Regions from separate parts of the Homo sapiens genome. Here region 2 is linked to region 1. Evidence: fine-mapped expression QTL. Tissue or cell type: testis. Region 1 holds a variant in brackets; the other region holds the start of a gene. All regions are shown on one strand. Distances are between the middles of the regions.

Region 1 (2,925 bases):
ATGTTGTTGCTATGATTTTTCTTTTTAAGACCTGCAGTGACCTGCTGCTACCAGAACTGACTCGCTTCAAAGTGACGGATGAAACCCATATGGAGATATTCCTGGGGTGGGTAGGCCAGTTGGAAGACAGAGTGTTTACACCTGAGAGAGGACTTGAGGTGAGTTGAGTATAGGGCTTGATTATGAGTTTAATATCTACTTCTCTCACTGGACTGCTCCATCACTGAGGGCAGGTTTATCTGTCATGTTCCCCTGTGCTATGTTTTTTTTTTGTCCCTACCTAAGCTCATGTTGAAATTTAATCCCCAGCGTGATGGTATTAGGAGGAAGGTATTAGTGGAAGATGTTTGAGTCACGGGAAAAGATCCCTTGTGAATGACTCGGTGCTGTTCATATGGTAGTGAGTTTTCCATCTCACGAGATGAATTGGTTCCTAAAGGAATGGATGAGTTCCCTTGAGAGTGGGTTGTTATGAATCCAGGACACTCTCAGGTTTGGTCCCCTTCAAGTGCCTGATTCTTCTTTGACCTTCTCACTAGGTTTGGTGCAGCACAGGAGCCCCCACCAGAAGCTGAGCAGAGGTACAGCCTACAGAACCATGAGCAAAATTAACCTCTTTTCTTTATAAATCACCCAGCCTCAGATATTTCTTTGTAGCAACACAGAAAGGAAAAAGACACCCTGGATGCTCAGTTCTTGGAGAAGCACAGGTATTTTGCCAAAGTGCTTAAGAGCAGGCCTCCGGATGTCTGACTACCTAGGTTCAAATTCCAGCTGGGTGGCTTCCAAGCTGTGTGCCATGTGCCTTTGGGCAGGTAAGTCAATGCACCTCCTGTGCCTCTGTGGGGCCAGCAGCAGTACTTCATAAAGGATAGGTTGCTGAATTAAGTATATTATGGTCATGTTTCAACTAACATGTACCTAATATGTGCTAGGTTCTCCTCTGGGCACCCTGGAACCATCAGTGAACAACAACAAAAAAGAATCCTCTGTCCTCTTAGAGCTTACATTCTAGTGTGAGAACACAAATAATAAATATACTAAATGACAAATAGAAAAACAAAATAAGGCAAGGAAAAGAAATAGTATCAAAGGCAGCTGGTCATGATTTTTAAAATATACTGACTATGTGTATTAGCTGGTTCTCACACTGCTAATAAAGACATACCTGAGACCGGGTAATTTATAAAGGAAAGAGGTTTAATTGACTCACAGTTTGGCATGGCTGGGGAGGCTGCAGGAAACTTACAATCATGGCAGAAGGGGAAGCAAACACATCCTTCTTCACATGGCACCAGCAAGAAGAAGTATGAGTGAAGCAAGGGGAATGTCCCTTATAAAACCATCAGATCTTGTAAGAACTCACTCACTGTCATGAGAACAGCATGGGGGAAACCACCCCCATGATTCAATTACTTTCTATAGGGTCCCTCCCATGACACGTGGGGATTATGGGAACCACAATTCAGAATGGGATTTGGGTGGGGGATTTTGGCCAAACCATATCACCAGGGTAGGCTTTATTAAGAAGGACATTTTGAAAACGCTTAAAGGTGGTGGGAGAATTAGTCATTTCTGTATCTATGGCAAGGACTTTCTCAGCAGAAAGAGCATCTGGACAAAGGCCCCGAGGCTGGAGGAAGCCTAGTGGAATGGAAGACGGTGGCCAGAACATCTGGAGTAGAGAGAACTGGGAGAAATTTGGTAGTGA[G/A]GAAAATAATGTGGGGCTAGATTATGTGGAGTCTAGCAAGCCATTTTAGAAGAAGAAGGAAGGTTTTCAGCAGTAAGGGATACCAGGAAGAGACATTTACAATGAGCCACTCTGGCTTCTATATCTAGGACAGACTCCAGAGGATGTGGGGTAGGGTCAGGGTCAGGAAAGTAAACACCAAATCCAAGGCCACTGGGAAACAGGGGCATGAGATTGTGGTCCCTCAGAATAAAGTGGTAGTCCTGGAGATGGTAAGAAATAATAAGATTGCTGGACAAGTTTAAAATAAAGCCAAAACAATTCCCTCACTCTAAGGATATGGAATGTTCAAGAGTGATAACAGATGAGAATGACCCCAGGTTTGGGGGAGGCAAAACATTGGTAGAGCAGGGCAGCTAACAGCTGAGAAGGGAAGGCTGGGAATGGGCTCAGTGTTGAATGTGTGGAGAATCCAATGTGGGTAAAGCACCAGTGGAGATGTCGAAAAGACAGTTGGACAAAGGAGGAAATGTCAGGAGGCCGCAGTGTGGACTATGAACTTGGGCATCAGCGTGTGAATGGTATTTGAAGCTGTGAGACTGCATAAGGTCACAAGAGGAATGTGTGTGGACAGAGAGGAGAGGAAGACTGAGCTCTGAGCCATAAAAAGTAAAAAATCAGAGGGGAAAGAAAGGAAAATTTGTTATGAGAAAAACCACAGGAGTGTGGTATTGTGGAATCTAAGAGAAGACATGAATCAAGAGAGAGGAAGGGGTCAGCTGGGTGGAATGTAACTGGTCCCATTGGGTTTAGCGACACAAAGATCTTCCACAATGTGTTTGTGGAGTATAGAGGACAGAAGCGGGTGGAGTGAGGTTAAAAGACAAGAGAGGGAGAGGAAATGGAGTTAGTGAGTATAGATAACTCTTGACAGCTTTATTGAAAATGGGAGCAAAGAAATAGGTGATTGCAGGCAGAAGAAATGGGGTTAGGAGAAGGGTCATCAAAATTGGGAGAAATGACAGCATGCTTTTGTATAGATGGTGATAATCCAGTGAAGAGGAGAAACTTGGCAATATGGGAGAAAGTGGAGAAAGCTCTGGGGGCCGTGCCCTGGAGTCAGGGGAAAACAGAAGGGTGGCACACATCGCTGGAGAAGCTTGCTTTGGTGGGAGCACGGACGGGGCATCCGGGGAAGAGGTATAAAGGGGAAGAAAGTGGAGACAGGTGCTGGC
Region 2 (2,925 bases), 5.5 kb before region 1:
AGGTGACTCTCAGCCAAGGCAATTCCTGAAGATCTACCAGCCCAAAATGTTTTCGGCAGCCAGGGAAATGGAGTCCTTCTGTTCTGGAAGGGGATCTGGGAGGTGGAGCCCAACACCCTTGAAAGCCCACTGTTGTGGCCTCTCTGATAGGGTCACTACATGTGAGACCTGGGAGCAGCTCACCCAGGAGGCTGCTAGCATGTCCTCCTGGAAAAACTTAGCAGAGGAAATTTCCTGGAATGAACTACAGTCTCTGCCACTACAGCCAGCCTCAAATCTTCAAATGATGCTCATATCTTTCCCTTCTTTCCATACAAGGCTGTCATCACACTTGGACAGCATCTCTTCTGGTTTGCCTGGGCCATGAACCAGCTCCTGTCCCTGGAGGTCTGAGTCTGTGTTTATCATGCTCTTATCAGGGAATGGTTCCATTCACTGCTAAAACTGGAGAAGAAAGTCCTAAGAAATACCCACGTGGATACCATGTGTCAAGCTTATTTCTCCCCGGCTCCATGGAGAGGTGACGGCACACCCTACTGAAGGCAGGGGCAGCTACCTTGCTGCAGCAGTAGGACCTCTTCTAGGTGGCCTGGCATGCCATGTGCACTGCAGCACCTCCCTTTCTATCAAGTGGGCCATTTAGTCTGATGTGGTGTCACAAGAAATGCCATACTGGGAATCAGTCATTCTGTAAGAGGGTTCCCTTCCTTTGGCACAAGCAGTCTGAACTGCCCACGTGGTGACTGGAGTTTTGCATTCAGTGGAATTCTGAGTGTATCCTTTGGAAATCAGGACTTCTAAAATCCACAGAAATCTCAACTGTCTAGATGAAAATCACACATTCACAAGTGGATATGATGACTGAAGAGGCCACTTCTGCTGAAACCTAATGATTTTATATGTTGGAAATGTAGCACATGAAATGGTCATTGACTTAGCACCTACACTGAATTTTAAAAAATGACCCCTCATCCTCACAGGACATCACCTCTGAGCTGGCCCAGCAGATGTATCTTCGTAGGCTGTCCCATTATTCTGGACTGGACGCTTCTGATGGTGTGATGTGTGGTGAGATTAGTGCTGTGGTCACGTCCCCACCGTCACGTCTCCGTTTTTATAAAGTGGGTCCCTGGGTATGACGTGATGTCACATGAAATGCCTTATTATGCACCAAACATTCTGTAAACCCCCAGAGCAACAGAATACTGTGCTGAGGCCCCAAAACAGAAAGGAAAGCTCACCACCAGAATGTGCCTTTTCCTTATCAAAAAGAATTGCTGCCCCTTACAGGACAGGAGGACTCCAATTGTGACCAAGTTGGAGCAGCCTTGAGCCACAACTCAGACTTATTTTCATTCTCTGCTCATTGGCCATTAGGAACCCGATCCTTATGGTATGTTCACACTGTCTCCAGGCTGGGCACAGTGGCTCACACTTGTAATCCCAGCACTCTGGAGGCCAAGGTGGGTGGACGGCTTGAACTCAGAGTTTGAGACCACCGTGAGCAACATGACAAAACGCTATCTCTACAAACAATATAAAAATTAGCCTGGTGTGGTGGTGCACGCCTGTGGTCCCAGCTACTAGGGGCTGATGTGGGAGGATTGCTTGAGCCTGGAAAGTGGAGGTTGCAGTGAGCTGAGATTGCACCACTGCACTCCAGCCTGGGTGACACAAGGAGACGCTGTCTCAGTAAGTAAATAAATAAATAAATAAATAAATAAATACCTGTTCACAACTCATTCACAGAAATAATGCTAACTTTTATGGTCGATGCATGATGTATACCGTTTTTTGGTAAAAATGTTGTAATTGTAAACATATTTTCCTATCTTGATGGATATTTGTTATAAGCAGTGTCAAACATTTCATGGAAAGAGGTGTTATATACATATTATACATAAATTCATGAACTTCTTTATCTTTCTTTCCTCTGACGTTAGATGTTTAGAATTTTTTAAATTGTTTGCTCTCATTGGTAATGCCACCAGGGAAGCTTGGTTCATCACATCTGGGAGAACAGATCCTTTTTATAAATGCCTAAGAGATGTTTTGAATGATTCAAGTTTTGACTGTCTTTAGAGCTTTCCCCATATGTTGCCATATGGATTTCAAAAGGTTAAATTTTTACATGTATAAAATTATTTAATACATGCTCTATTATATTTTAACATAATAAATATATGAAATACTTTTTTTACATTTTTTAAGTTAACTACTTTAATAAATTTATCATGGTAGTTTTTAGCTGATGCATACAGATTGCCAGGCTATTTAATCAGTTAATCTGAAAATAATTATAGATCAAGTTTCTTAATTCCAGCTTTATTGTAAATATAAAACACACTTGATATTTACTAAAAAAGTAAAATGTAGATTGTGAAGTCATCTTATATAATCACAAGTCAATAGGAGTCAAATTAACAAGATTCTGTATTTATAGATTATAAAGAATAAGAGTTTATAAAGGAACCTAGTTTCTTTTTGCTTACACAGCATCACCCAGCCCTCCACCTGCACCACTGGAGGGATGGCAGGTGTGGAGGTTGGGCTGGTGCTGGTGATGGAGTGAGATACTGGAACAGTGTCTGCTCTCTTTGTACAGCAGCAAGGATTGGAGTGAACAGTGCTGTCTTGTAGCCCCAAGAGTTTATGGGAATTTTCAGCTTCTCCTATTTTTATCATTCTGATCGAATGTCAATAAATTCATACAAGTAAAATAATAAAAAATAAAACCCTCATATTTCCTTATTTGTCAAGATATGAAATTAGTTCTAGTGAATCAAGAACACTAATATTTTGGCTACTTAATTATATCTATGAGTAGATGCTAAGTTTAATTTTAAAGGGATCTATAATAGAAAAAAATACATTGTGATTCTTTATTATGACTTCCTTTCTAGATCATAAAATCCTTTTGAGTCT

What was found. PIP is the estimated chance that this variant, and not a neighbour inherited with it, causes the effect.
Region 2: LINC01020 starts here. The variant in region 1 is fine-mapped to the expression of LINC01020 in testis (GTEx, PIP 0.98).

What each region holds. Positions count from the first base shown.
Region 1 is chr5:5,038,641-5,041,565 of GRCh38, forward strand. It overlaps LINC01020 (long intergenic non-protein coding RNA 1020), which reads left to right. Exons shown (of 7, transcript NR_026994.1): 2 at 30-158. Among named protein-coding and RNA genes, the nearest start is that of LINC01020, 5.7 kb to the left of the region's middle. RefSeq lists enhancers at 1,204-1,303, 1,324-1,563. The variant G/A (reference allele first, on the strand shown) is at 1,712.
Region 2 is chr5:5,033,145-5,036,069 of GRCh38, forward strand. It overlaps LINC01020 (long intergenic non-protein coding RNA 1020), which reads left to right and starts at 1,215. Exons shown (of 7, transcript NR_026994.1): 1 at 1,215-1,393.